Homo sapiens: one gene and its partners. The protein of the gene in region 1 purifies or fractionates together with the protein of each later gene. This does not show direct contact. Each region holds a gene or a part of one and is shown in the gene's direction. Other genes may lie near its edges.

Region 1 (4,619 bases):
GACAAACTGACTCTCTTGTTAGGGGCAAAAGTAGCTGGTGACTTTACATTGAAGCCAAAGCTCATTTACCATTCTGAAAATTTTAAAGCCCTTAAGAATTATGCTAAATATATTCCACCTGTGCTCTATAAATGGAACAACAAAACTTGAATGACAGTACATCTGTTTACAGCATGGTTTATTGAATATTTTTAAGCCCACTATTAAGACTTACTGCTCAAAAAATGTTTCTTTCTAAATATTATTGCTTAATATTGGTTAATAATATACTTTGTCACTCAACAGTTGATGGAGATGTACGAAGAGATTAATGTTGTTTTCATGCCTGGCAAAACAACATTCATCTTGTAGCCCATGGATAAAGGAGTAATTTTGACTTTCAAGCCTTATTATTTAAGAAATAAATAGATAGCTGCCATTAATAGTGATTCTTCTGTTGGATGTGGGCAAAGTAAATTGAAAACCTTCTGGAAAAGATTCACCATTCTAGATGCCATTAAGAACATTTATAATTCGTGGGAGGAAGTCAAAACGTCAACATTAACAGGAGTTTGGAAAAAGTTGATTCCAACCCTCCTGAATGACTTTGGGAGTTCAGGACTTCAAAGCAGGAAGTAACTGCAGATATGGTAGAAATAGCAAGAGAACTAGAATTAGAAGTGGAGCCTGAATATGTGAGTAAATTGCTCAATCTCATAAGACTTGAATGGTTGAGGAGTTGCTTCTTATGGACAAGCAAAGAAAATGGTTACTTGAAATGGAATCTACTCCTGGTGAAGTTGTTCACAGCATTGTTGAAATGACAGCAAAAGATTTATAATTATATAAACTTAGTTGATAAAGCAATGGCAGGGTTTGAGATGATTGACTCCAATTTTGAAAAAAGTTATAATGTAGATAAAATGCTATCAACCAGCATTGCATGCTACAGAAAAATCTTTCATAAAAGGAAGAGTCAATTGATGCAGCAAACTTCATTGTTGTCCCATTTTAAGAAATTGACACAGCTATTGCAGCCTTCAGCAATCACTACCAGGATCAATCAGCAGCCATCAACATCCAAGCAATGCCTTCCACCACCAAAAAGATTCCCATTAGGTGAAGATGATCTTTAGCATTTTTTAGAAATAAAATATCTTTTTAAGTTAAGGTAGGTACATTGCTCTTTCTAGACATCGTGCTATTGCATACTTAACAGACTACAGCATAGTGCAAACGTAACTTTTATATGCATTAGGAAACTGAAAAATTCGTGTGACTCGTTTTGTTGCAATACTCGCTTTATTGCGGGGGTCTGGAACCTAACCTGCAATATCTCTGCGTTATGCCCTTATAGCGCCGGGAGTGGGTGCCTTCCGCCGGCTGTACAGAGCGCCGGCAGGTGGCGCCCAGCGGCGAGCTTGTTCCAGCTTGGTTTGGGCCAGGTGGACTGGAAGGGGCGGAGGTAACCAGAAGCGGCTAGTGGCGGCTGCCTGCGTCCCCAACCCCCTCCGCGCAGCGCTCGCGACACGCGTGCCAGGAGTGGGAGCGAGCGGCGGGGCCAGCTGCGTTCTGAGCCTGGGCGCAGCTGCCATCTGCTCTGGGAAGCACCAGGGTGTCCCCGCCGCCCTCAGCTCGAAGTCAGCCACCATGGAGGCGCAGGCACAAGGTGAGTGGTCGCCGATCGCCCCGAGAGTCAGGTCCTGGGGCGCGCATAAAGGCTCTTTTCCTGCACCACCTAACTTCGCTCTCGGACAGAACAGATTGGTGCCGTGTTGCACATCCAGAACTCCACTCCCACCCGCGCCTTTGGTATAATGCCTGCTGCCCAAACTCAGGATTTGCTGTGGGTCTGGGGATCAATAAAGTGACAGGGGATCCGTAAGTGGAGAGGCCCCTCCTCAGGAAATGCGCCCGTGGAATGCTCTACCCTCTTCCGCAGCCAGTCGCCCCTGGCCTTCCCAACCTCGCGGCTGCCCGAAGGACCTGTTGTGCCGGGTCCGGAAAGCGTGTTTCGCTCCCTTTCCCTTGAGGGAGTGGGGAGGGAATGTGACTCTTTTCGCCCAGCGCCGTGGACTCGCGGCTTGTGGCTCCCAAGTTAGGGAGTGAGAGGATCGCCCGCCGAGGGGGTGGCTCCGCAGCCCGGCTGCGCGAGACGCTTCCCGCTCGGGGACCCGCCTTCCGAGGCCAGGTGAACGTTACCGGCCCCCTGACCTCCAGCAGATCCACACGTGAGTCCCGGTTTCCGCGATCGGGGAGCGACCTCTGCCTCCCGTGGCGCGCGGGGCCCCCGGCCGCCCAGCTCCCTGCTCCCGGGGCTGCCTGCTGGAGGAGCCTGCGGTGGCTTCAGGAAGGGCGGCCTCATATCTTGGGGTCACACTTGGAACAGGGTTGGGGAATTCCGATGGAATCGTTCAAGAATGGGGGTAAACGGACCGTGGAAAGGGGCAGAGGTGGGCGGATGTGGAGCGAGAGACAAGTGGGAAGGAAACGGACTCAGTGATCTACCTTGGGGAGCAACGCCCAGAAGGGATGGCTTGCGGAGTTCAGCCTTTAAGGCAATCAAAGCCACCATTCTTTTACACAGTAGGAAACTCTGTGTTGGCTCTTAGTATAGATAAAATCTCATTAAAAAGAAAAAAAAAAAGGTTCATGACCTGATGCGCTCGCCCTCTAGGGGCAGAACGCCCTGAATGAGAGTGGGTTGGCGATTGCGTGGGCCTGGAGTCGCCCAACAGGTTTGCTGCCAGGATTACAATTGTCTGAACAGCACGAACCTTACTCGTTTGTTCCATCCTCCTAAGTCCTGCCCGTAAAGCTGCCGCTTCCCATATTTTTTCCTCTATTATGTAGATAGGAAATGATAATTCAACCAAGGGTGAGGGCAGTTGGTCAAATTCAAAAGCAGAGGTCAGGTTGGAGGCCTTCACGCCAGAACTGAAGCTGGTGGGAGCAGCACCGGAGCTTTCCAACCTGACTTGCATATTAGAATTATTTAGAGAGTCTTCATTACTGGCCTTGGCCAACCCCATCCCAGTCAAACTGGAATCTTTGGAACCTGAACATGGGTATATTTGAAAGCTTATATTAGTGAGGATGGAGAAGAACTATAGCAGATAGGAAACATTCATACAACTTCTGAAGACATCCGAAACTACAGACTGGTAACCACTGGTGTCACTGGTTTGCTTTATTGCTTTGCTTTACTTCCAAGATTTACTTAACAAATATTTCAGTGCTTTCCTTTGCCAAGCACTGTGCTAAGAAGAGCAAAGACAGACTTGGTATCTGCTTCATAAAATTTACAGTAGAGGAAGAGACAAATATTAATTTGATAGCTATTTGAAAAATAACATGTAAAATCACTGCCATGCTGATGCTAAGAAAGGGCCTCATAGTGCAGCGAGAGCCTGAAAAACTATAACCCTAGTATGCAATAATCAGAAGAGCAGATTGTTTATTGTGTCCCTGTCTCTGTTCTTCGTGCTTTGCATGTATTGATGGACTCATTTCCTGTGCGCAGCAGTCCCATGAGGTAGTTCATATTCTCATTCCCATTCTACAGAGAGGAAACAAGCATGGAAGGTATTAGGTTGGTGCAAAAGTAATTGCAATTTTTGCCATGACTTTTTAATAAGTTCCTTGTTTACAGCCAGATAGGTAAAAAGTAGCAAAGTGGATGCTGTGAGGGACCCATTCTCACTCAAAGCCTATGACTTTTGGAGGAAAGGTAAAACTTCAGTCCCCACCTGAATCTCCAGCTGTCCTGTGGTGCTCTTCCTTTCCCCTCATGACTGGATGGAAACTTTAGGTGTAAAGAGGACTAGTAAAAAGGCAAATGGATATGAGAAAAGTGAACAGATTTAATAAATACTTAAGAGGCCAGGTGCAGTGGCTTACACTTGTAATCCCAGCACTTCGGGAGGCCAAGGTAGGAGGATCACTTAGAGCCCAGGAGTTCGAGACCAGCCTGGACAACATAGAGAGACCTCATCTCTACAAAAAATAAACAGAATTAGCTGAGTGTGGTGGCATGTGCCTGTAGGCCTAGCTACTTGGAAGGCTGGAGTGGGAGGATTGCTTGAGGTCAGAAGTTTGTGGCTACAGTGAGCCAAAATCCCAGCATTGCACTCTAGTCTGGACAAGAGTGAGACCTTGTCTCAAAAAAAAAAAAAAAAAGAGAGAGATACAAAAAAGGCCAGCCACACCTGTAATTCCAGCACTTTGGGAGGCTGGAGGAGACAGATTTTTTGAGCCCAGGAGTTTGAGATCAGCCTGGGCAACATGGTGAAACGCTGTCTCCACAAAAAATACAAAAATTAGCTGGGTGTGGTGGTGCGTGCCTGTATCCCAGCTATTTGGGAGGTTGAGGTGGGAGGATCACCTGAGCCCAGCAGGTGGAGGCAGCCGTGAGCTGTGATTACATCACTGCACCCCAGCTTGGGCGAGAGGGCAAGACTCTGTCTCAAAAACAGATAAACAAAAAGAGAATAACAACAAAAAAACTTAAGAAAAGTCAAAATTGGATTGAATGTGAAGGAGGGCAGTGTCAAGGATGACCAGCTTCCTACTTGTACAATCAAATGGAGGATAATTACCTCTTAAATCTTTATTTGCCTAGCATTTTAAGATTTTCATTT
Region 2 (3,957 bases), on another chromosome or scaffold:
GCTAGAATCTGCCCTTGGGCCAGCCTTCTCCTCCCCATAAGATTCCAAGGGAGCTGCACACAAATGGGAGAGCAAAGTTAAGATCAGGCAGCACCGTAACCCCCATCGCACCCCTATCTGGAGCTGGGACCACACACAGCACTTGGGCGCAAGGCTGAAATGGGACCTTTCCTTTTCCCTTAAGCCCCAGTCCTCTGCCAGTTGGCTTCCAGGGTCAGCTCAGTGGGAACACCTACACTACCCAGGTTGTATGGGAGGATGGCCAGGTCACACCCCTGCATGACAGCCCTGCCAGTACTCACACTGTTTCCCTCTTCACATACCCTTCCCTTCCTGACCTACCTGCTAAGTTCTACCTCCTCCCCAGGAAGCTTTTCTGGTGTATTCCTTTCCCACCCTGAGTCTCCATCTCCTACTTCCAAGCACCACATTTCTCCTGGTAGTCTTGTGGTAGTGGTATGTACGTGTGTGTGTGTGTGTGTGTGTGTGTGTCTTCCTCTAGCTGACTGAGCTCATTGAAAGGCGATGATTTTAATTTGTTCTCCATGATTTCTCCTACAGCGCCTAGTACATAATAGGCAAACAATAAGTATTGCTGAAATTGAGCAATTTAGTTTGGGTGGCCCCATTAAAGAAACCTAGCATAATACTCTTTGGGAGCTAAATTTTCCTGAATGCTTTCTGCCTGCTGCAGCTCAGCTGGAGCTCTGAGCGGGCTGAGGGCCTTCTGCTTGCTAGCTGTCCCACATTCCCCCATGACTGCCACCCTTAGAGGGCTACTCTCCTGCCCCAGCCGCTGCACTGGGAGGTGTACGGACTGCTGGGGCTTTGGCTCTTCGAAGACTGCAGCTCCCCCATGCTCTAGAAGAGTCAGAAGGCCTTGGGTTCCCCTCCTGCTTCTGCTCCTGGTTAGTCAAGGCTATCACTGCCTATTATGTGCTAGGCATTATAGGAGAAATCATGGAGAACGAATTCCTCACCTTCCAATGAGCTCAGTCGGCCAGAGGGAGGAAGACACACACACACACACAAACACACACACAGACACACACACACACAAACATGTGTGCGTACATACTACTGGGCTTCGTTAGCTTAGCTATAAAGTAGCTCGAAGTCGCATGCCAGTTTGCACCCTAAATGTGTTAACGTATTGGATTTGGATTAGGTTTGGTAGTCACAATGTTTGGCCAAGTGCTTGGAACTGGAAGTGACCATAGAGATCACTTCTCATGAGATAAAAGTAGATTGTTCCTTTTATTTTTATGTTATTTTATTTTTGAGGAGTCTTGCTCTGTCACCCAGGCTGGAGTGCTGTGGTGCAATCTCGGCTCACTGCAACCTCCATCTCCCGGATTCAAGTGATTCTCCTGCCTCAGCCTCCCAGGTAGCTGGGATTACAGGCGCCCACCACCACATTTGGCTAACTTTTGTATTTTTTGTAGATACAGGTTTTCACCATGTTGGCCAGGCTGGTCTTGAACTCCTGACCTCAAGTGATCCACCCACCTCGGCCTCCCAAAGTGCTGGGATTATAGGCTTGAGCCACCGCGCCCAGCTGTTTCTTTTGTTTTGGAGATGAAGTAATTCAAGACTCTCCCAGGTCATACACGCTGTGAATGGTACTGTTGGCACTCAATGCCAGATCCCCTGACTTGAACTCTGAGGCTATTTTTCTCACTCCACAATGGAAAATAGCCTGGAAGTGGGAGAGAAGAAACTCATTTCTTCATTTCTGGCAGCAGATCACCAGGACCTGTCGGGAGGAGGGGAGAAGGATGGTGCTCCTTTCTTCTGTCTACCATTGAGTTCCATTTCTCTGTTACTCTGAAATAGAAGGGAGCTCGGGAGCATTGATGGAGTCCAGCAGATTTCTTTGGAGGATGCTCTTTCCAGCCAAGAGGTGGAGGTCGCCTATATCTGCAGTGAGAGCTCCAGCCATGAGGACTACATCAGGTGGGTTTTCCACACAGGCAGTCCTTGCCTTACACAGCAGTGCAGTACTGCAAAAATGAGCAAGCAAGCTAAAACACCCTGCAAAGGAGTCAGAAGAGCCAGTGAGAAAATTACAATTGCTCTGTGACCAATCACAGAAGTGTCAAAACATTAAGAAATTCTTATTGCTGGTTATAAATATATAAGGAAGTGAAAAATAGTAAAATTAATATTTAGTATGTGTAATTTGAAACATTAGAAACATTCAGAATTAAAGTGTTTTATTTCTCTGTAAAAACCCATCGAGAGTAGTTTTCAACAGTAGTGGCCTCCTTCTTCTCACCAGACAGTTTAGGATGTGGAGCCGGCATCCTTGGCAAATTATCATACTCCCTTCTCAGTTTGGATCAGCTTCCAACGTTTTCTCCTTTGTGCTTTCAATGTCATAAAATAACGGTTGAGTTCCTTTAACCCTCAGGACCTGGCAGCTAACAGGGAAGTGCCAGCTGCCTTCCTCAGTCTAGCTTCCTTCTAGGTTCTTACAGCTGCTCCCACCATGCTGTTTCCCACGGGTAAGATGCTTCCTCTTTATCAGTCTAGCTCTAGAGTAGACAAAAACACCTCTCCTTGGCTTTCCTTAACCTTTTCTGGCACCAGAGTGTATTTCCTTAAGAAAAGTGATTCTGACATAAGTCCCATGCTTATAAATATTTGTACTCTGGTATCCACAGAATGAAATCTGAACTGCTGAGCACAGAATTGTAGGTCCTTCACAGTCAGGCCCCCAGCTACTTTTCCAACGTTATTATCCTCCACGGCCTGTAGTCCACTCCCCTGCCACACTGAAGTTTGCCGATTGAACAAAGCCCCACAAATGCCCAAGCCCCTGCATACGCTGCTCACAGTGAAATATACTCACATGTTGCACCTGGAAAATGTCTGCTCATACTTTGAGACCCAGTTCATAGGTCCTTAGTGAAATCTTTTCAGACTGCCTCAGGCAAAGCTAGCCGCTGTGGGTTTTGTAGCCTTTATAGCTACCATGTGGTGATAGGAAATTTATTTGTTAATGTGTCTTTATTTCTCCTCCACAGTAATTGGTAAATAGTACTTAGTTGAATAAATGAATGGTTGAATGTTCAAATTAACACATAACCAGAAAGTTGATCTGTCACAGGATAGTAGAAAACAATGTGGGATACAGTTCTTCCTCCATATCCCGTGGCACTGACTCCTACCCCCAGTCATGACACATTCACACACAGAAACTCTCATGCCTTTATAACATTCTGTTCTCTATTATGCAGAGCATTTCAGTGAAGCTTATTCGAAGTGTTCTTTCTCTGTATTTGTCTCGTTTACCAAAGGCAGTTCCTTAATGCTGGCAAGCACGTCCTTGTGGAATACCCCATGACACTGTCATTGGCGGCCGCTCAGGAACTGTGGGAGCTGGCTGAGCAGAAAGGTAATGTATCTTACCAAGAGTTTCTGCCTCCAGGATTTCTGTGATATCATCTTTATGCCTTTAAAACTTAACCCCATTTCAGATATCTCCTCCTCCTGGCTACACTGGCACTGTGGGCTCCCAACTGCCTCCTCACCCCCACACTGTAAACACAGATAGTGGAGGGCAGAAGGATGGGTGGGAATTTGCAAACTTTTGGTCAAAGCTTATCAGCTTATTTTACTCACTCTAAGGAAAAAATATGAATTAGTTTTCACCTATGCTTATGTCATGATATTATTTTGGCTTTATTCATGTGATACTTATATTGCTAAATGCTGGGATATCCTAAAAATGCTCAAATCAGAGAAACTGATTGTCTTATTTGCATAGTTTGTAGTTTTTGTTGTTTCTAAACAGGAATAACCATTTATTAAATATTTAGTATATGCTAGGAACTTGGAAACTCTGCTAAGCACTTCATATGTTATTTTGCTTAATTCTTCTAGAATCCCTTGGAGGTATATATTTTCTCTAGATGCTGTATAGAAAAATATGGCTCAAAGAAGTTAATTTGT
Region 3 (3,957 bases), on another chromosome or scaffold:
CTTGGCCTCCCAAAGTGCTGGGATTACAGGCCTGAACCACCATGCCCGGACCACTTTGGCATTTGTAAGTGGCTTCCAGTCAGTGAGAATTCATTACCTTCTATTCACTAGGTGTTGCAACATTAAATATTACTGCAGTTACTTTTGCACCAGCCTAATAGGATGTGGAGGTCCTAGGTCCTTTTCTTTTTGGGGGACGGGAGATGGTGGGTATCAGGTAATAGTGGGGACTGACATCCAGAAGAGTTGTCTCACAAAACTCTTTCTTCTTCTCCCCGGATGCCCGTAACAATTATTTTTATTTTTTAAATTTTTTTGTTTTTTGAGGCAGGGTCTCACTCTGTCGCCCAGGCTGGAGTGCAGTGGCACGATCATGGCTCACTGCAGCCTCAATATCCTGGGTTCAGATGATCCTCCTGCCTCAGCTTCCCAACTGGCTGAGACTACAGGCTGTTATTTGTGGTGATGGGGTCTCGCTGTGTTGTCCAGGCTCCTCTCAAACTCCTGGGCTCAAAGGATCCTCCAGTCTTGACCCGTCAAAAGTGCTAGGATTACACACCTGTGTGTGAGCCACGGCACCCAGTCACACTTTTTAAAAATCTGGTGATTTCCTGAGACTGGAAGGTTCAGGTTAATGTTCTGCTTAGCTAAGAATTGAACAAAAACAGCCTTTGTTAATATCTCTTGCAAATGTATCCATTGATTTTCTTGCTTTAGATTCTGCTTTACACAGACTGCTTTTTTTTTTCTCTTTTTCTCAAGTTTGATGCCTCCCTGAACTAACCTTCATCTGAAATGAAAAAAAAGACTTTGAAGGTGGAGACATGGATATTGAATAGTGAATATGTGCCAGGGACAGGGCCATGTCCAGACAGCATTATATTTAGTCATGGTTGGTGTAAAGCTGATGAAATGCAACAGAGACAGGGATCTTTATCTGTTTAAGTCATCAGTATAGTCCAAGCCCCTAGAACAGTGTTTTGCACATAGCAAGTACTCAGTATATAGTTGCTGAAATAATTGAGTTGATAAATCGATAGTGTTTTGCCTTGGAAATTATGACTCGTCTATTTTCTGAGTAGTTCTCATTCTGGTCTTGAATTAGATTTTAGGCAGCAAAGAAGGACGACAGAGGGAGGAAACTGTAGGCAATTCTGTGGTGGGAGGTTGTGGGGAACCAGAGGAAGGAAGTTAACAATTTTTTTTTGAGACAGGGTCTTGCTCTGTCACCCAGGCTGGAGTGCAGTGGTGCAATATAGCTCATGGCAGCCTCAAACTCCTGGGCTCAAACGATCCTCCCACCTCAGCCTCCCATGTAGCTGGGACTACAGGCGTGCAACACCACACCCGGCTAATTTTTAAATTTTTTATTTGTGGAGACGAGGCCTTACTATGTTTCTCAGGCCGGTCTCTAACTCGTGGGCTCAAGCAGTCCTCCCACCTCACCTCCCAAAGTTTTGGGATTACAGCGTGAGCCACCACACCCAGCCGCAAGTTCACTATTGAACACAGTTGATGTTCTTGGCAGGCGCAATTGCAGATTAACCAAGTTCTTGTTTTACTGCCAACATGGGCAATGTGAAGTTTCTACCTGGCTAGGCAGGATTGAAGGTAACGAGGCAGGCCCTAGGAAAAATGGTGAAGCTTCTGAATTTTGCCACCTGTTATCACCAGATAACAGGCGGCCCACTGATCGGGATTCTGAACACTAGATTGATGCCAGCAGGCCCACTGATCGGGGTTCTGAACACTAGATTGGTTGGAAAAGGAAGCTCTCAGGAATGGATCATCGGTTTGGAAAGGGAGGCTGAGTTACAGGAGTCTCCTTGATGATGTATTTACTGAACAGCCTGTGAAATTTTGTTTCTTAGCTGGGTGTGGTGGCTCACGCCTGTTATCCCAGCACTTTGGGAGGCTGAAGTGGGTGGATCACTTGAGGCCAGGAGTTTGAGACCAGCCTGGTCAACATGGTGAAACCCCATCTCTCCTAAAAATTCAAAAATTGGCCAGGCGCGGTGGCTCAGGCCAGTAATCCCAGCACTTTGGGAGGCCGAGGTGGGCGGATCATGAGGTCAGTAGATCGACACCATCCTGGCTAACACGGTGAAACTCCGTCTCTACTAAAAATACATAAAAAAAAAAAAATTTATCCAGGTGTGGTAGTACACACCTGTTGTCCCAGCTACTCGGGAGGCTGAGGCAGGAGAATTGCTTGAACCCAGGAGGCAGAGGTTGCAGTGAGCCGAGATCGCACCACTGCACTTCAGCCTGATGACAGAGTGAGACCTCGTCTCAAAAAAAAAAAAAAAAAAAAATTTAAAAATTAGCTGGGCGTGGTGGCGGGCACCTGTAATCCCAGGTACTCGGGAGGCTGAAGCTGGAGAATTGCTTGAACTCAGGAGGCAGAGGTTGTGATGAACCGAGATGGCACCACTGGACTCCAGCTGGGCAACAAGAGTGAGACTCCATCTCAAAACAAAACAAAGCAAAAAAAAAAAACAAAACACCTTAGCAGGGCATAGTGGTGCGTGCCTATAATCTCAGCTACTCGGGAAGCTAAGAATCACTGGAACCTGGGAGGCAGAAGTTGCAGTGAGCTGAGATTGTGTCACTGCACACTCCAGTCTGGGCGACAGAGTGAGACTCTGTCTCAAAAAGAAAAAAAGAAACTTGTTTCTTATCCCTCATTAATGCCCACCTGGAGAACCGGGGAATCTGCCAGTGTTGTATGCTGAGGGTCTTAGCAATGTGCAACTCTGGGCAACCAGAGCCCTGAGAACTCATCTGATAATGCTCCAGTCTGGGAGGCAAACTTCCTTTGTGATCAGCTGATGTGTTTTAGGTAGGAAGGCCCCTGGGGAATTTATCTCCGCCTTTCCGTATGCCTTGTGTGCGTGTGGGGAGCCAGCAGACGCAGAAATAATTCAGAGGTATCAGAGTCACCATCACATCTATCATAGATTAGAAATAGATGCTTTATATACCTTATCTCTGACCTGCTCAAAATCTCCATAATGGAAGCATTCTTCCCTTAACTGAGCTAGGAGAAATTTGGAAACTCACCCACCTCTAGCCACTAAATGGGAGAGCTGAGAGTCAAACTCCTATCTGTCTGACTTGAGGCCTGTGCTCCCTCTAACAACCTGATGCACAGGTCAGCTAGAGCAGCAGTCCCCAGCCTTTTTGGCACCAGGAACCAGTTTTGTGGAAGACAATTTTTCCACGGACCAGCAGTGGGGTATGGTTTCAGGATGATTCAGGATTCAAGTGAATCACATTTATTTATTTATTTATTTATTTATTTATTTTTATTTTTTTGAGACAGAATTTCACTCTTGTTGCCCAGGCTGGAGTGCAATGGCATGATCTCGGCTCACTGCAGCCTCTGCCTCCTGGGTTCAAGCGATTCTCCTGCCTCAGCCTTCCAAGTAGCTGGGATTACAGGCACCCACCACCACACCTGGCTAATTTTTGTATTTTTATTAGAGACGGAGGTTTCACCATGTTGGCCAGGCTGGTCTTGAACTCCTGACCTCAGGTAATTGCCCGCCTCGGCCTCCCAAAGTGCTGCAATTACAGGCTTGCGGCACCACGCCCAGCCTGCATCACATTTATTGTGCACTTTATTTCTATTATTATTATGTTGTAATATATAATGAAATAATTATGCAACTCACCATAAACTAGACTCCGACGGAGCCCTGAGCTTGTTTTCCTGCAACTAGTTGGTCCCATCTGGGGCTGATGGGAGACAGTGACAGATCATCAGCAATTAGATTCTCATAAGGAGTGTGCAACCTACATCCCTTGCATGCACAGTTCACAATAGGGTTCACGCTCCTATGAGAATCTAATGCCGCCACTGATCTGAAAGGAAGTGGGTGGAGCTCAGGCAGTAATGCTAGCGACGGGGAGCAGCTATAAATACATATGAAGCTTCGCTCACTTGCCCGCCAC
Region 4 (4,506 bases), on another chromosome or scaffold:
GGCTCATGCCTGTAATCCCAGCACTTCGGGAGGTCAAGGTGGGAGGATCGCTTGAGTCCAGAAGTTTGAGACAAGCATGGGCAAACATGGCAAGATCTCGTCTCTAAAAAAGAATACAAAAATTAACCGATGCATGGTGGCATGTACCTATGGTCCCAGCTATTTGGGAGGCTGAAGTGTGAGGATCACTCGAGACACTGCATGCCAGACTGGGCAATAGAGCGAGACCCTGTCTCAAAAAAAAAGTGTCCCTCGTGGGTTTGGTTGCATGAGAATGCTTGGTGTTCAATTCTTGAGGTTATTAGAAGATTGAACTTTGAAATCATCCCGCAACCTTGAACCAAAAGGTGAAATTGTCCACTTTGATAGATGACAACGGAAGGATCCTTTGGTTCAATGGACAGCTTGTAAATATAAAACAGTTGCTGGAAAATTATATTAGAGATGAGCTATCTCCTCCATTACAATGTTTGCTTTTCTTTAATGCGATTGAGTTCCAACAGAAAGGCTTGGGAGGGGCCACAAGCAATGCTTCAGGAGTTACTGGAAGAGAGATATGGGGAGTGAGAGAGGAGATCCATCGATGTGGAGCAGGGGCCAGGGGAGGCCTTCTGCCCAGGAGGCCTGTGCTGAGGACCCTGGCTGTGCCCAAGGGAAACTGAATTCAGAGCTCCTCCTGCATCATAAATCCAGGACAGCTGGCAGCTCTCCAAGGAAGACTGGCGCTAAACTCCAAGGGCATCAGCCGCCAGATTGGCCAACCCCTACAATGCCCTTTGAGAGCTGAGCCCCAGGTGTGTTGAATCGGGATTCCGTTCCAACCTCATGACCACATTCATTTACAAGCCCTGCATTTTGTTAATTTAAAAATGCACTCACCAGGAGGGAAGGAGGAGAGGCTCCATTAAATATAAGACAGCTGAAAGGCTGGAATTCTTCTGACATGCATGTCTTAGGAAGGAGAAGGCCTGACCTTGTTCTTTTTTTTTTTGAGACAGGGTCTCACTCTGTCACCCAGACTGGAGTGCAGTGGTGCAATAATAACTCACTGCAGCCTCTACCTACTGGGCTCAAGTGACGTGACCTCCCACCTCAGCCTCCCCAGTAGCTGGAACTACAGGCACATGCCACCATGCCTGGGTCGCTATGTTATCGGGGCTGGTCTCCAACTTTTGTTCTCCAGCGATCCTCCCACCTCAGCCTCTCAAAGTATTGGAATACAGGTGTGAGCCACCGAGCCTGGCCAGGCCTGACTTCTGAATGCATTCGTTTCTTGATCTTTTACCCCGAGTGCACGTGCAAGTTGCACCCCTGGCCACTGGGTTTTGCAGAGTGTGGCGTTCCAGTGTCCGGGGCCCCACGCCCGTCCGCAGGCTACTGGAATGCTGAGGGCGAGGAGGCTTCGCTCCACGCACACCGGATCGGCCTGCACTTCAGGGGCCAGGTCTACAGCCTTCCCCAGCGCAGACGCCGCCGGCCCGGCCGGTTCCCGAGGGCGGGGCTGCGCGGCCTCACGCCCCGCCCACCGCGGGCAGAGGCGGGGCATGGGTCACGTGACGGCACGCCGACCAGCGAGGCCCCGCCCGGCGGGAGGAGGCCCGGCCGCGACCCGGGCCGCGCGCTGAGGAGCCGCCCGGTCGCCTGCGCGCTCCCTCCGGCGGCGTCCCCAGCCCGCGGCCCCTCTGCTGCCGGCCCCCGGCTCGCCGGCTGCGGGAGTGGCCTCAAGATGGATGAAGACGGCGGCGGCGAGGGTGGTGGCGGTGAGTGTCGGAGGTGTGGTGGGCTCGCCGGCGGCCTGGGGTCGGGGGCCGGGGGCTGGGGGTCGAGGGCGCGGCGCTGGGCCGGGGTTCGCCGGAGGAGACGGGGTCGGGGGCAGCGGCAGCGGCGTCCGCTGGAGGCCTGAGGCACGCCGGGCCAGGGCCGAGGCTGGGTCTCCGGGGGCCGAGGGAGGGGGCGGGCCGGGGTCGCCGTTCGGCGCTGGCGAGGGTCTGGGTACCAGGCCGGGGCTGCCGCGGGCTGGGGTCGCCCCGGAGTCTCGGGCCGGGGTTTGGGTGTCGCTCCTCTGGGGCGGGGGACCTTGCGGGGCGACCTTCCCCGCATCTTGTCGCCAAGGGCGTTCATGCCCTCCGGAGCCCGGCGTTTCGGACGCCCCCTTTCAGCTCAGGTGGGCGGAAGCGGCTGAGCCGGTGGGAAACCGGGAGGGGAAAGTTTTGCACTGGAGGCTCCTCGAGTGTACAGGACGGGAGGGCAGGGGAAACGGTTGGAAAGCGTGACAGTCTGCTTGGCTTTGGGTCAGAAACGGTCGCTGGATTTGCTCGAACGGGGAGGGGGCCAGCTGGAGTTCAGTTCAGGGTAGACGTTTTAGGAAACGGCAGACGCGACAGATTGAGCAAAAAACTCCGTGGAGCCGAGGGTGGGAGACACGAGCTGCACCCAGCACAGAGGCAAGACCGGAGAGCCAGGTGTGCCCGGAGCCAGGTGTGCTCCCGAGTGGGTCGGGTCGATGCGCGTCGTGGCCCAGGTGGTCTGTGTCTGACGTTCGGTTTCCTCTTGCTGGAGGAATCGTGTTTGTTGGAAATTATTTAGTGGAATACAAATGACTGCTGGGTCATGCTGGGAATTAGATTTTAAAAACAGAGGAACGTGCCTCTGTATGGAGTGGGTGTTCGCTTTGGAAAGCAAAGGGTTAATGCCCGTGTTTTTACAGGAACAGCCGAAGTTGAGGTTCTCTAGACTTTTTTTTTTTTTCCTGAAGATCTCCTTTGAGCTGACAGAGAAATCATCAGAATCATCAGAACCCCATGTAATAAGGGAGCAGTTTAGAGAAATCTTAATTACAGGCTGCCGGTGCAGCTGCCTGTAAGAATCAGCAGTATTGAATGCTTCAGGATGAAGTGGTTCATCATCAAGGTGCCTTCCAGAATTCAAGTGCTGCTCAGAGGGAGATGTTTTTTTGCTGAAAGACGCGATGCAGCCAGGATGGTGGGAAGTTGGCACCCGTCATGGCATTTGGCGAGTTCAGTTCTTATAGTTGAAGCTAGGGGTAGCACTGTGGCACCGAGTGGGTGTGTTGATGGGAGCGCTGTGGAACGAAGGCGCCCAGTTGCGAACCCTCCTACAGTCAGGCTGTCTGGAGCCATGAGATCCTAAGGAATGGGTTCCCGGTGGATGTCGTGTTTCCTGCCTGTCACAATTTGGGCATAGCTGTTTTCCCTTGTTAGAAAAGAAAGACAACTGTAATATGCAGACGTTGGACATTAGCGTCAAGGCAGCTAGCTGGCTTGGCAGTTTTGTTTGTAAGGTGCTTTGGGCTCTGTGAGTAAAGAAATGTAGACTTGAAGATTAAAGCAGGAATAAAGAGGAAAAGAGGAGGCTTTAATGTGCTCCAGCAATTTGCAGGTCTTGAGTACTATAACAAAGGATGATATGAAGTATCAAAAGTCTTAAAATTGTCCTTGGGTTGTTAGTATCTCTTCTGGGAATATATCACAGGGAAGCAACCTTGAAATAAACCCCTCACGTATAAAGATGTGTATTATGCTGTTTAAAATAGCAAAAAATTGGAAACAGCAACGCCAACAGCAGGGGCATGGTGAGGTAAATTATGGGAAGTTTATTGAAGTATTTTACAACCATTAAAATAAGCAGTTTTATACATCATGGTTTAAACAACATAAACATTGGTGACATTATGGATTATTTTATTTTCTTTTTATATTTTCCAGGTTTCTGGAATAAGTGTGTATTTCAGATTGGAAAAAAACCATCAAAGACGTGAATGTTTTAAGTGTATCATTTAATTCATCTCACTGGAACATTCAACAATGAAGATTTATTTATTGATTGCCCATCAAAATGCTAGCCAGCATGTTAGGTGCTGGAAAATAACTTTTAACCTTTATTGATTTAGTTTATGACTAGCTTTCTCCCTTGCTTTGTGACAGACACTTAAAAATATTTTTGGCAATATTAGGATATTTATTTTTGAAACAGGTGAAAAGCAAAGTTTTGAAATATGAGTGATATTGTAATTATTGTATAAACTTTATGTGCTTACATTTAACTCTTGGCTGTTGTAAGTTTTGAAGTTAACATACCTCTTTACAGTTAATACCTTTTAGATTTTTAAATGCTTTAAAATTCATGTTTAAAAAAATAAAGTTGAGCTCTTTTAAAGAAAACCGTTTCAGCTGCCAGCAGATTATAAAGCATAACATTTTTTGGTATATTTTTAGAGTGTAGTACATAATGTTGAACTGTATCTGGGGGAGTCAGTTAAAGCTTGTTTAAAAGATAGGGTAAATAATCTATTCAAACAGTAGTTATGGTAGAAGCCAAAGATAATTGAAAAGGTCTTTTTTTTGTTAATGGTCAGGTTAAAAGACTTGAAAAATTGATTCCTACTTGCTATTTTTATAAGTTAATTTAGCTTTTTGTCCACTGTATTGTTCTTTCAATGCAAGATAAGGAGAGAGAGGATGGTGGCATGAATGGCTGGAAGGCAGT
Region 5 (3,957 bases), on another chromosome or scaffold:
CAATTTCCTACAGGTGCTTTCAGGATCAGGTCACTGCGATGGTCTCTAAACACCATTCTGCTTTCTCTGCTCTCTTGTCTTTAGGAGCCGGGTGTGGGCTGAGCCCTGCCTGATTGATGCTGCCAAGGAGGAGTACAACGGGGTGATAGAAGAATTTTTGGCAACAGGAGAGAAGCTTTTTGGACCTTATGTTTGGGGAAGGTGTGGTATCACATTGACTCTAGTGTCTCCTGTTAAACTGAGTCACTGGCTTCCATTCTTCCTCTTCGTGTGGCTTTTCCACCTCCTGCCTCCCAGAGCAAAGTTTCCCTGATCCCAGAAGTGAAGGAGAGGAGGAAGAGAGGAGGGTATGAGCCAGGCTTCTCACTGTTGCTGAGGAGAGGGCCTAGGAGATGAGGTTCTTTGTGTGTGTGTGTGTGTGTGTGTGTGTGTGTGTGTGTGTGTGTTTTGAGATGGAGTCTCGCTCTGTCACCCAGGCTGGAGGGCAGTGGCGTGATCTCAGCTCACTGCAACCTCCACCTCCCAGGTTCAAGCGATTCTCCTGCCTCAGCCTCCAGAGTAGCTGGGATTACAGACGCCCTCCACCACACTCAGCTAATTTTTGTATTTTTAGTAGAGACAGGGTTTCACCATGTTGGCCAGGCTGGTCTCGAACTCCTGACCTCAGGTGATCTGTCCACCTTGGTCCCAAAGTGCTGGGATTACAGGTGTGAGCCACCAGGCCCGGCAGAGAAGAGGTTCTTGAGGTGTTCAAAATGTGACCTGCAGTTGCCAAGTTTGAGATGGGGCAGCACCGTCAAGGTCCTTTGTTGACCTGTGTTTTCCCATTGCTGGAAGTTTCCCCACACTCTGTTTTTAACTTTGACATCTTCAGACTTTAGGCTCCTTAGATAAAAGGCTCCAGGTTGGTCTTTATGACCCCAAGTTGGCCTCCAGGGAACTCCATGTGATGGAGCTGATAATACATTTATCACCTCCACCCCTGCTTGGAAGGAGAGAGGGAAACAAATGCCTGGAGAGTGAGCTCCAGGAGAGCAGACACCACCTCGATGAGGGAAGTCCCAGCAAGGCAGGGGAGCCACGTGGGAGAAGCATTGAGGAGCCTGGGCTTTATTTTCCGCACTGGGCCCGAAGTCGTACTCTGCCTGTTTAGTGACTGCATCTGTTAGGGCTTGGAAATAGGCTGGAAAGGGAGGCGAGGTAGGGTCTGCTCCGGGAAGCCAGGGCCTCTTGGTGACCTCCCCGCTTCTCGGCAGGTATGACTTGCTCTTCATGCCACCGTCCTTTCCATTTGGAGGAATGGAGAACCCTTGTCTGACCTTTGTCACCCCCTGCCTGCTAGCTGGGGACCGCTCCTTGGCAGATGTCATCATCCATGAGATCTCCCACAGTTGGTTTGGGAACCTGGTCACCAACGCCAACTGGGGTGAATTCTGGCTCAATGAAGGTTTCACCATGTACGCCCAGAGGAGGATCTCCACCATCCTCTTTGGTAAAGTGCCCACCCCTCTCCTAAGGAGTCTGCCTCCCATTCTTAACCTGTGGGGCCAGTGTGATCTCCTTATGGGGTTTCAGAATACAAGTGGGTGTGAAGAGACGAGGCAGTAGTGTGTATCCAACATTTTTCTGTATGTATGAATTGTCAAACCACACATGGTTTGACAACTGACTTTTTTTTAAAAAAACATTTCCCCAGGTCATTAGTTTTTTTTTTTTTTGAGACAGAGTTTTGCTCTTGTTGCCCAGGCTGGAGTGCAATGGCACGATCTCGGCTCACTGCAACCTCCACCTCCCGGCTTCAAGCGATTCTCCTGCCTCAGCCTCCCGAGTAGCTGGGATTACAGGCATGCGCCACCACACCTGGCTAATTTTGTATTTTTAGAAGAGACGAGGTTTCTCCATGTTGGTCAGGCTGGTCTCGAACTCATGACCTCAGGTGATCCAACCTCCTCGGCCTCTCAAAGTGCCAGGATTACAGGCGTGAGCCACCATGCCCAGCCCATTAGATTTTCTTCTATAGCTGCATATATGGATGTTTTTTAATTTACTGGTTGTTTCCAATTTTCCATTGAAATATGTTGACAAATTTCCTTACACATAAATGTCTATTCATATCAGATGATTTCAACAATGATAAATTCTTAGAAACATAATTTCTGGGTCTGAACTTTTTTTTTTTTTTTTTTTTTGAGACAGAGTCTTGTTCTGTTGCCAGGCTGGAGTGCAGCGTTGCAATCTCGGCTCATTGCAACCTCCACCTCCGTAGTTCAAGCAATTCTCCTGCCTCAGCTCCCCCACATCCCACTCCCTGTAGCTGGGATTACAGGCATGCACCACCATGCCCAGCTAGTTTTTATGTTTTTAGTAGAGACAGGATTTCGGCATATTGGCCAGACTGGTCTTGAACTCCTGGCCTCAAGTGACCTGCCTGTCTAAGCCTCCCAAAGTGCTGAGACAACAGCTGTGAGCCACTGCGCCCGGCCCTGAACGTTTTAAATTACATAGTCTTTTTAGTACATATTGTCCATTATCTTCCAGAAAGTTTGTACAAATTCTGTACTTTCATTCAGAATATATATAGCAAGAGCCTGTTTGTGAATATCTTAATCAGCCATTAGGAATCCTGCAAGCAAATATTTTTATCCCATTGTACAGTTGAAGAAACTGAGGCTGAGAGAGGCTAAGCCACTTACTCAGAGTCAAAACATCTAGGAAAGGGCAGAGCTGGCTGGTTCCAAAACCCTGTGCCCCACCCCTCCACTGTTCCCTCAGTCATTGTTTTTAATGCAGAAGGAGACTTAGAGATCCTTAAAAATTTGGGGTTGATAATTTCTTTTGTCTGACAGAAACAGTTAGATGAAAATAATTCTAAGTTTTCACAGAAGATCAAGTCATTGCCAGGCATGGTGGCTCACGCCTGAGGCAGGTGGATCACCTGAGGTCAGGAGTTTGAGACCAGCCTGACCAAAATGGTGAAACCCCCGTCTCTACTAAAAATACAAAAATTAGCCAGGCATCATGGTGTGTGCCTGTAGTCCCAGCTACTTGGTAAGCTGAGATAGGAGAATTGCTTGAATCCAGGAGGTGGAGGATGCAGTGAGCCGAGATCGTGCCACTGCACTCCAGCCTGGGCAACAGAGCGAGACTCTGTCTCAAAAAAAAAAAAAAAATCAAATCATTTTCTAAAAATAAGGCCGGGGGCTGGGCGTGGTGGTTCACGCTTGTAATCCCAGCACTTTGGGAGGCCAAGGCGGGCATATCACCTGAGATCAGGAGTTTGAGCTTGGCCAACGTGGTAAAGCCCCCTCTCTACTAAAAATACAAAAATTAGCTGGGCGTGGTGGTGCACACCTGTAATCCCGGCTACTCAGGAGGCTGATGCAGAAGAATCGCTTGAACCCAGGAGGAGACGGAGGTTGCAGTGAGCCAAGATCACGCCATTGCACTCCAGCCTGGGTGACAGAGTGAGGCTTTGTCTCAAAAAATAAAATAATAAAATAAATGAAATAAGATAAAATAAAAATACAGTACTTTGATAAGGAAAGGTAACTGTCAGAAAGGTGCGATTCCCCCAGTCCTCACTTAGGAGAGAGACCAACAGCCTGAGTTAACCAAGTCCTTTGTAGCCCACAGCAACAGGGAGCTAGGGACTGAGTCAGGCTCTCTGTAACTGTCCCTATTTGCCCTGGGTCCCCAGGAGGGTAATGTTATTAAGCTTCAGGTATCTGTCGCTGTTCTTCTTGAGGCCACAAGGAGGCAGCACAGTGTCTCTGTCAGGAAAATACACTTGGATGTGGTGACAGACGTTTTCCCGAGGCTTACGTTTGATTCTGCACCAGGCGCTGCGTACACCTGCTTGGAGGCTGCAACGGGGCGGGCTCTGCTGCGTCAGCACATGGACATCACTGGAGAGGAAAACCCACTCAACAAGCTCCGCGTGAAGATTGAACCAGGTCC
Region 6 (4,696 bases), on another chromosome or scaffold:
TGATAAAAGTAAACCCCAAACTCAATCAAGATACGGAACAGTTCCACAACTCCCTCAAATTCCCTTGTGCCCTAGGTAGTCAACCCCTCCCCCAACCCCCAGCTCTTGAAAATCACTGATTTGTTTCCTTTACCTATAATTTTATATATTTCAGTGTTTTTTTTTTTTTTTTTTTCAGGGTCTCCCTCTGTCTCCCAGGCTGGAGAACAGTGGCACAATCAGGGCTCACTGCAGCCTCGACCTCCCAGGCTCAAGCGATCCTCCCTCCTCAGGACTCCCTCCAGCTCCCCCACCACGAAATAGCTGGGACTACAGATGAATGATGCAGTATTTTGGGGTGACGGGGTATGGGGGTGGGTGTTTGAACTCTGTCACTCAGTGTTTGTGAGATTCATTCATGATGTTGTGTATAACAGTAGTTCACCTGCATTGCTCTATCAATGTGCCATGATTTATTTATATGAATTGGTATGGATATACTACCAAGTATTTATCCATTGTATTGTCGATGGTCATCTGGGTTGTTTCCAGTTTGAGGCTTTTACAAATAATGCTGCTAGAAATATTCTTGCCCGTGCTTTTTTATGCTTATGGGTATGCATCTTCTTTATGGCTTGGTGATACCAGCGTCAGGAAGATGTGCTCCTATGTTAGTTTCCCTAAGTTTCACGCTACTATGGAAAGAGACCACCATTTCTGCTGTCCTTCCCAGCTTCTCCCCCACCTCCCCTTTTCCCTAGTTTATAAGACAGGAGAAAAGAGAGAAAGCAAAAAGTTGGAAAAAAACAGAAGTAAGATAAATAGCTAGACGACCTTGGCGCCACCACCTGGCCCTGGTGGTTAAAATAATAATAATAATATTAACCCCTGACCAAAACTACTGGCGTTATCCGTAAATTCCAGACATCGTATGAGAAAGCACTGTAAAACTTCTTGTTCTGTTAGCTGATGTATGTAGCCCCCAGTCACGTTCCTCACGCTTACTTGATCTATCATGACCCTTTCACGTAGACAGACCCCTTAGCGTTGTAAGCCCTTAAAATGGCTAGGAATTTCTTTTTCAGGGAGCTCGGCTCTTAAGACGCGAGTCTGCCGACGCTCCCGGCCGAATAAAAACCTCTTCCTTCTTTAATCCGGTGTCTGAGGAGTTTTGTCTGCGGCTCCTCCTGCTACACTACCTTTCGCACTTAGAGATACAATTGATCTGGAGTTCAGAGCTGTGTGTGATGGGAGGTAGGGGGCCAAGTTCCCTTTTTTCTTTTCCCTACGTGGATATCCCTTTGACCGAGCACCATTAACCAAAAATAGTTCCTTCCTGTGCTCTGCAGCCCCGCCTCTGAAATAAATTGTCCATACACGTGTATTTTTGTTTCTGGTCTCTATCTTATGTTCCACTGGTCTTCCTACTTTGCTTTTCTTTTTCAAGATTTTTTTCTGGCTGTTCTTGACCCTCTGAGTTTCTACATAGTCTTCAGGCCCCTATCTGGGTGCACTTCCTGGTATCCCAGCATCTGACATGTGCCTGGCGCGCAGCAGGAACTCACGGCTGGCTGTAGCCTGGATGCATCAGAGACGATGGCAAACCCTTCTCACACGTGCCAGGTTCCAGCAACCCACCCTAGCCCCGCAATTCCTCCTCGCTCACTCCCACCCCCTGCAGCGCACCCGCAAACGGCAAGGAGGCGTGCCCGCCGCGGCGCGCGTCACTTTCCCCCGGACCGACTGGCTCCGCCGCGGCTCTCCCCGCCCCCGCCTCCGCCTCCACGTCTTGGGGCCGGGCCGGAAGGCAGATCTCACCGCCTGCTTCCCTCTGCAGCGGTAGCACAAGCTCAGCGATGGCGGCTCCAGAAGGCAGCGGTCTAGGCGAGGACGCCCGGCTGGACCAGGAGACCGCCCAGTGGCTGCGCTGGGACAAGGTGAGGGGCACCAGCAGGCGGGGAGCGCCTGGAGCGGGGCCGGGTGCTCTGCCCTCTCCAGGCGCGGCGCTGCTTGCTCTGCCTGAGCTGCCTTCCCGCCCAGTGCATCCCGCTTCTCCCCCGGGAAGACCCAGGAGCGTACGGCCGCTGCTAGGCTTCCTTCGACCTGGCCGGCATGCGGCACGTTCAGAGTTAGGCCGGGAAGGCTTGTCCCCGGACGAAACCAGCCATCCGGCCGGCCGGACTGCAAGTTCGGAGTAGAGGAGCGAGCCAGGGTGGTGTAAGCGCGGCCAGACCCTGGACGCTGTCTAGTTGAGGGGCGCACGCCTTACTGTCACTCAGACCGCTGGCTCGTCGTCGGTAGTCGGCTGTGCATCCCCATGGACCCAGAATCGCTCCGTCCCGCGTATTCCTTTGGCCGCTGAGACCTTTGCAGAGCAGCGTTCTGGTCCGGTCCTCCCATCCCGAGGGCTTGGTTACAAACGTGGGTTGTCCTCCCGGGTGGGCCCGCCTGGCTTCAGGAGTCCCCCTTAGAACTTTGACTGCCAGGGAGGCACACCTGGGACACAGCACGGTTTTCTCTCTCTTCATTCCGTTTCTTAGAATCAGGAACCCAGCTCTGGACATCACTCCCTCTCCTCTCTATAAACTTGCGTCTCGCCCTTTCGACCTGTTCTGCTTGCTGTTAGGTTTTCTCGGAATGTCCCTCGCTGCTCTCCTGCTGAACTTGTTTCTCCCGTTGTGACTCATATTTTGTGCCTGAACTTAAATGTGGCTTACGTAGAGAGTCAGTCCTTCCTTGGCTCCGAAGCGTTAAATTATTTATCCCTAATATTCACTCTAAACAGTCTGTTATTTTCCTTTATAGCTCTTACTACAAATGGTAAAAACAAAAAACTCCAAAAACACTTGTTTGTAGGTTTGTTTAATGTCTGTCTCCAGGGCCGACTTCAGGGGCGAGAGACCCCTGCAGTCTCACAGGACTCGCGCTCCTTGAAGGGCCCACTGTTGTTTTAATGTCCTGCTGTCCTGTCTTGAAAGTCTTACTGGTAAAACAAGAGGTCACCCACTTTCATTGTGCACTGGACCTCCATAAATTATGTGGCCAGGCCTCTCTATTCTCACTACCTTGGTTTGTAGTGCCTGGCATAGGCATAGTGCATGACACATAGTAGGTCACTGAAATACTTGAATGAACAAAGAAGATTACAAGGTCAGTAGGGGTCAGGTCTTTGTCTTTATTTACCATTCTCTGGCCCCTACAAATAAAATGTCAGCAAATCCCATTTCCAGGATGCTATTGGCAACTCCTTGGGGGCGTTTTTCTTTTCCTGGGAAGATAACCTTGTGATTCACAAGGGAAGAAAAATGTTTCCATTTCTGATAACTTGTAGCTTGCAGAGTACAGAATTCTTTTGAAGTCAGAGTTCATAATGCACTTTCTCTAAGAAGAAGAAGAAAACAATCTAATTTCTACACAGTGTTGCATCTGTGTATAGAAAAATTGTATTTCTCTGGGTAGAGATGAGATGTCCTTTTTTTTTTTTAATCACTTCTCATGTTCTATCCTCTGTTAATTTCTTCTTTGCTTTGAGACTGGCACCTGAGAAGAAGCCCATTCATTCTCCAGTGAACCTCCCACCAGCTAAAAGCATTGCAGCCCTCTAGTCAGACTACCCCCGGCGACTGGCAAGGCGCCCTGGCAGGTGCCCTCTGTCTTTCCACCGTGCCTTCATCCCTGCTCTTTTCTCTGCTGTCAGTTTTGCTCACTGCCAGGGCTGATTCTGATCCTGCTGTACTCTTGACTTGTCATTCTTACCTGTCTGTCTCCTTTGTTTCTCTCAGGCTACTTAGTCTTTCATAGATATCAAAGACCAATTAAGATTTTCCAGACCTACACTATGAACAAGGGAGGATCACTCGATATTGAGTGTGGCAGTGAAGTCCATGTTTTCTGATTCACTCCACTAATATTTATTGAGGCTCTTTTATGAGCCTCTTTTATGTACCTGATCTGAGCCTTTCTTTGGGGCACCTGACAATCTGATAGGTAAGACTGTGTTCTGTAATTAGCATCTGCTGTTTTTCACCAAAAAAGATGGGGTTTACTTGATTCCCATTGAATCTGCCACAATCTGGAAATGTGGGCTTAATTCCAGAAAGCCAAGGTTTTATTGCAGTAGTATTTCAAAGTTTAATTAAATGGCCACGTCCTGCGTGAGTGCTCATCTAAATGGATAATGACTGTAAAACAGGAATATAAAGTCCTTCCTCTGTTGTTTTCCTGAATTCATAACTTAAAAGTCTCATATGAAACTAATGTGATTGTCATTATTTTTCTCCAACCATAACATTTTCTGCAACTACCATACAAAAAAAAAATAGGGCAATGTATAATGAACTTAAATGAATCATGTTAGCGTCTATTTGAAGCAGTTAATGTTATAGAAAAGGCACTAGATTAATGTTTATCTTGCAATTTAAGCAAGTCACCCAATCTCTGAGGCTTCCCCATCTATAAAATTGGGTTTCTGTTATTTGTCTACTTCTTGGAGATGTTACAATATTCAAACTTGACCAGGTATGTGAATGCCTGGTATGAATTATAAAACATTACAAAAGTAAGGTTTTGACTTAAGTTGTGTAATCTATCACTCTGGAAAATTTGAGGGCATTAGGGAAAAAAATGGACATTTAATCACAACTAAATGCCAGGTAGAGAAAGATATTTTACATTAATTTGAAGTAAACCACCTTAAAACCTTAAAAATCGTGTAAGG
Region 7 (3,957 bases), on another chromosome or scaffold:
GGAGAGGCCTTCTTTCTTTACACTTGTCCTGTGGTTTCCTAAGGTCTTTATAGTGAGAATGTTCTGGGAGCATTTCTACCTCAGAAAACTAGGAACTAAAAGTTCCTCCCCAAGCCCTTTGATGTAATAGTAGTTTCTCAGTCTTTGGACCTTAACCCACCTTCATGCAGTTGTTCAGCACCTTCTTTCATCTAAAACCTGACGGAATCTGGTTGAACCTTCCTGTCCTGTCTTCTGGTTTCTGAGTGGATTTGACCCAGGGCAACTGAGAAGAGGCACTGCTTTATCTTTTTGCCTTCTCACTAGAGAATGAGACCCTACTGCAGTGTCCTCTCTCTTCAGTCCCTGCATCTTCCATCCACAAAACATTGTCAAGTGTGTCAGTGACTTACATCCCTAATTAACTTAATGATCTCAACGTCAGAGAAAAACACCTGTAAAACTTTTCTCTCTCCCTGATTGTAACAAAAACACAATCCCATGATAGAAAACTTGGAAAATGCAGAGGAAGTAAAAAGAAGAAAAAAAAAATCACGTATAAATTCTGTTACTTAGAGATAATCAGTGTCAATATTCTATGCATATATCATTTTATAGCCTGATTTTTTCACTGTATCAGTACACTATAAGCATATACAAGCATAATTTTAAGTGAGTATTAAATACTCCATCATGTGGTTATACCATAATTTATTTAACTGTTTCCCTAAGGATGACCTTTGGGTTATTTGCAGTAATCCTGTAATTTATTATGATGCTACCATCAAAATCTTGGTTCATGAATCCATGTCTTAGTGTTTGATAATTTTCTTCCTATTTCTGGTTGGCTTTTAGGGCTTTTGACTCATCTTGCCCTTTGTCTGCCAGAAAGTTTGCACCTTTGTATTTGAATTTGTCTGTCTTGCCACACCTGAACACCAGGTACTGTCATTTTTAAAGAAGTGCTAGTATGATAGGTAAAAAATGGTGCCTCATCACTTTAAGAAGCCATTATTTTAAAATAGAGGTTATACTTTTAATGCCCAGGCGTTTTTTTGCTCTGATCCTCATGAGAACAAGTGACGGAAGCTGGAAGTCCTGGGACCAGAACTGTGCTCTCTCCTGGTCTGTCTAGTTCTCAGACGTTCAGCAACATCACTGTTACTGGCTGTCCGCAGGTCCCCCACCCAGTCGTGGTGCCAGAGCAGACCCATGGGTGGGCTGCAGGCTCTGATTTCATTGGTGAGCTGCAGCCTTGCTGACTCACTGCTTTTCTTTCCACCTCTGACAGGAAGCTCCGTCTCCATGGGGCTCACTGACCCTTACAGAGGAGGCTTGCCTGGCTTCCCTTGTGGGAGGGTCTCAGTTTTTCTACCCTAGGTCATCTGCCTCAGAAGGGAGAGAGTGCTCGTCTCCTTCCTTTTTATTTGGGAGCGCCAGAGGTTTGTCGGCTTCAAGGCCAGGCCTGGCAGGTCACCACTAGGCGGATCATTTCAACTCCTTGTGGGGGCAGTTCTCAGGATTTCAACTAATAGCTTTTATTCCCTTCTCCGGGCAGTGATGTGGAAGCCTGAGAAACAGCTCTGGTGCCATCACGTGGTGGACATGAGCAATTGCAGCTCAGAGGTGGAACCAGACGGGAGTCAGGCTTCCAGCCTTTCTGTGCGATTCCACTGAATCCTTGCGCAGCAGCTGGACTCCAAGCTGAAGCTCTTCCCTCCCGCTACAAGCGACCCCTTAACATCTTAAGTCAGACAGGTGACAGGGATTTTGATTTCTTTTCTAGGGCTATTTAATCTCCGAGGATCAGATGTGGAGCACAATCCAGTATTTTTCTCCTACGCAATCATAGGACTAGAGACGATCATGTGAGTGTTTGCCCTGCATCTGGAACTCCCTTCCAGAGCTCCTCAGAGCCCTAGTGTGCCCTTTCTGGTCCTGGCCCACCCATCACTGCCTGATATTTCACTGATGTGCTTCTTTTTTCTTGCCCTTTTAACATTTTCCCTTCTTGTTTTCCTTAGCAGTAGGTGTTTATTTATATCCTGCCTCTCTTTGAGCCCCCAAAATGGTTTGAAACGCATGAAAGTGTCTATAGTTCGGGCCACCCATTTGATGTCAAGTTTTCTAGCAGCCAGTGTTAAGGGGTATATATGCTCAATTATACAATTCTGGGTCCACAATGCAAATAAACCCAGTCATTTTGAAGGTCAAAAATAATATGGGAAAACCCCTCCAACTACGCTTTGTTGAATTGTCAGTTTATTTTTTCAAAGCATTTCGTGTGGCCTTCTTTTCATTACTGTTCTATTTCAATAGCTTTTTGCATTAAGACAACACATTTATTAAGTGCTGGTGATGTGCTAAGGGTCTCTGTTAGGTGCTAGGGTGACTGAAACAGGACGGGGTCCTTGGCTGGAGTTGGGGAGATGAGCATGTCCTCTTTCTAAAGTATTTGGGCACATAAGTGGGCACCAGTCTGCTTGTGGGACAGATACAGGTGTTACGAGAGGGGCCTGACCTAGACTTGGAGATCAGAGCAGACTCTTGGGGAAAGTAATATTTTGAAGCAGAGAGTAAGGATAAATGTGGGTGAGTTAGGTGAATGGCAGGGTGAGGAGGGGCGGGGAACCATGATCCAAGCAGAGGGAACAGCATTTTCAGAGACTCTGGACAGTAGAGAGCACAGTGCATGTGGAGGACCTGAAGTGGTTCAGTGAGGTCAGAACATAGTGAGGCCAGAATGTGAGCAGGGGCCACAGAAAAGAGAGGCCTTGTGGGCCACATTCAGGAGCTTGGGTTCTTTTTCTGAACAAGAATAGTGGGAAGCTATTGAACGAATTTTTCAGAGGGAACCACATGTTAGATGTACAAGTTGTAAAGAATATTATGACTGAAACATCGGTAGATGGGGAAAGACTTAGAGGCTGTGGCACTAACCCAAGTGAGAGATGGTGGGACCTGAACCTGAGTGGTGACTGGGCGAGGCTGTAGATGAGCTGGACAGATTAGATGGAGATTTAGGCTGTGGGTCCCAAGGTCTTAATGAAGGACGGGAAGAGGGTCATCAGTGAAGGAGGACACTGCCCAGATTTCTGGCTTGGCAGATTGGGTGGATGGGGGCAGGGAATGCACCTTGGAGGGCAGGATTTGGGAAAGGAGTGGGGAGGAGAGAAAAGGGGCTTGGTTTTGGTTGCCAGGAAACAGAGCCTGATGTGTATGTGTGTCTGTGTTGCCACCTCTCACTCATGTTCCCTCCTTTTTCTGCCACCCACCTCTCCTCCATCTGCAGGCTCTTCATTGATGGTGACCGCATAGACGCCCCCAGTGTGAAGGAGCACCTGCTTCTTGACTTGGGTCTGGAAGCCGAATACAGGATCCAGGTGCATCCCTACAAGTCCATCCTGAGCGAGCTCAAGGCCCTGTGTGCTGACCTCTCCCCAAGGGAGAAGGTGTGGGTCAGTGACAAGGCCAGCTATGCTGTGAGCGAGACCATCCCCAAGGTTGGTGACCCCACTTTGGCCCATCTAAACTCTGCCACCCCCTTCCCAGTTCTGGTATTGTCTTTGGAGCACAGGCAGATTTCTGAGGCTGCCTGTTGGATCAGAACTGTGGTCTCCATGGATGAGGCCTTAAAGCTGGAGCCATAGCAAGAGCCTGAGGGCCCTTATTGCTTGTTGAGTCTTGTGTTTTCCAGAGTGTGGCATGAGAGATTATTTTAGGTGGTACACATTATTATTTAGGTTTGCTTAAATATATCTGTTTTAACAGCATTTAGCATATAATAGAAAAAACATAACTAGCATGAGTTCATGATATAATTATTTAAAATAAAGTTGAATTTAATAAAGCTGATTTAAAGATGGTCTAAAGTAAAGTACTAAGTGAATAAGGGTACAGCAGTTAAGAAGCTAGGGTAAAAGCTGTGCAGGTGGTATAAGAATGCTTGAAGCTTGGGAAATGCTTCTCTACCCCCTC

Evidence for each region.
Region 2: the proteins of TPD52L1 (region 1) and BLVRA purify together in Homo sapiens (co-immunoprecipitation; one large-scale study listed by IntAct). This does not show direct contact.
Region 3: the proteins of TPD52L1 (region 1) and GSR purify together in Homo sapiens (co-immunoprecipitation; one large-scale study listed by IntAct). This does not show direct contact.
Region 4: the proteins of TPD52L1 (region 1) and CYTH3 purify together in Homo sapiens (co-immunoprecipitation; one large-scale study listed by IntAct). This does not show direct contact.
Region 5: the proteins of TPD52L1 (region 1) and RNPEP purify together in Homo sapiens (co-immunoprecipitation; one large-scale study listed by IntAct). This does not show direct contact.
Region 6: the proteins of TPD52L1 (region 1) and PGM2 purify together in Homo sapiens (co-immunoprecipitation; one large-scale study listed by IntAct). This does not show direct contact.
Region 7: the proteins of TPD52L1 (region 1) and XPNPEP1 purify together in Homo sapiens (co-immunoprecipitation; one large-scale study listed by IntAct). This does not show direct contact.

What each region holds. Positions count from the first base shown.
Region 1 is NC_000006.12:125,152,323-125,156,941, forward strand, and holds the start of TPD52L1 (tumor protein D53), read left to right. Parts: upstream 1-1,450; 5' UTR 1,451-1,629; coding exon 1,630-1,648; intron 1,649-1,923; exon of another isoform or gene 1,924-2,210; intron 2,211-4,619.
Region 2 is NC_000007.14:43,789,413-43,793,369, forward strand, and holds part of BLVRA (biliverdin reductase A), read left to right. Parts: intron 1-1,836; coding exon 1,837-1,956; intron 1,957-3,302; coding exon 3,303-3,400; intron 3,401-3,957. UniProt on the Homo sapiens protein: Reduces the gamma-methene bridge of the open tetrapyrrole, biliverdin IXalpha, to bilirubin with the concomitant oxidation of a NADH or NADPH cofactor. Does not reduce bilirubin IXbeta.
Region 3 is NC_000008.11:30,717,463-30,721,419, reverse strand, and holds part of GSR (glutathione reductase, mitochondrial isoform 1 precursor), read left to right. Parts: intron 1-3,957. UniProt on the Homo sapiens protein: Catalyzes the reduction of glutathione disulfide (GSSG) to reduced glutathione (GSH). Constitutes the major mechanism to maintain a high GSH:GSSG ratio in the cytosol.
Region 4 is NC_000007.14:6,269,728-6,274,233, reverse strand, and holds the start of CYTH3 (cytohesin-3), read left to right. Parts: upstream 1-1,609; 5' UTR 1,610-1,726; coding exon 1,727-1,760; intron 1,761-4,506. UniProt on the Homo sapiens protein: Promotes guanine-nucleotide exchange on ARF1 and ARF6. Promotes the activation of ARF factors through replacement of GDP with GTP. Plays a role in the epithelial polarization.
Region 5 is NC_000001.11:201,996,063-202,000,019, forward strand, and holds part of RNPEP (aminopeptidase B), read left to right. Parts: intron 1-84; coding exon 85-201; exon of another isoform or gene 202-347; intron 348-1,256; coding exon 1,257-1,492; intron 1,493-3,839; coding exon 3,840-3,953; intron 3,954-3,957. UniProt on the Homo sapiens protein: Exopeptidase which selectively removes arginine and/or lysine residues from the N-terminus of several peptide substrates including Arg(0)-Leu-enkephalin, Arg(0)-Met-enkephalin and Arg(-1)-Lys(0)-somatostatin-14.
Region 6 is NC_000004.12:37,824,898-37,829,593, forward strand, and holds the start of PGM2 (phosphopentomutase), read left to right. Parts: upstream 1-1,788; 5' UTR 1,789-1,835; coding exon 1,836-1,916; intron 1,917-4,696. UniProt on the Homo sapiens protein: Catalyzes the conversion of the nucleoside breakdown products ribose-1-phosphate and deoxyribose-1-phosphate to the corresponding 5-phosphopentoses.
Region 7 is NC_000010.11:109,881,957-109,885,913, reverse strand, and holds part of XPNPEP1 (xaa-Pro aminopeptidase 1), read left to right. Parts: intron 1-1,765; coding exon 1,766-1,847; intron 1,848-3,271; coding exon 3,272-3,482; intron 3,483-3,957. UniProt on the Homo sapiens protein: Metalloaminopeptidase that catalyzes the removal of a penultimate prolyl residue from the N-termini of peptides, such as Arg-Pro-Pro. Contributes to the degradation of bradykinin.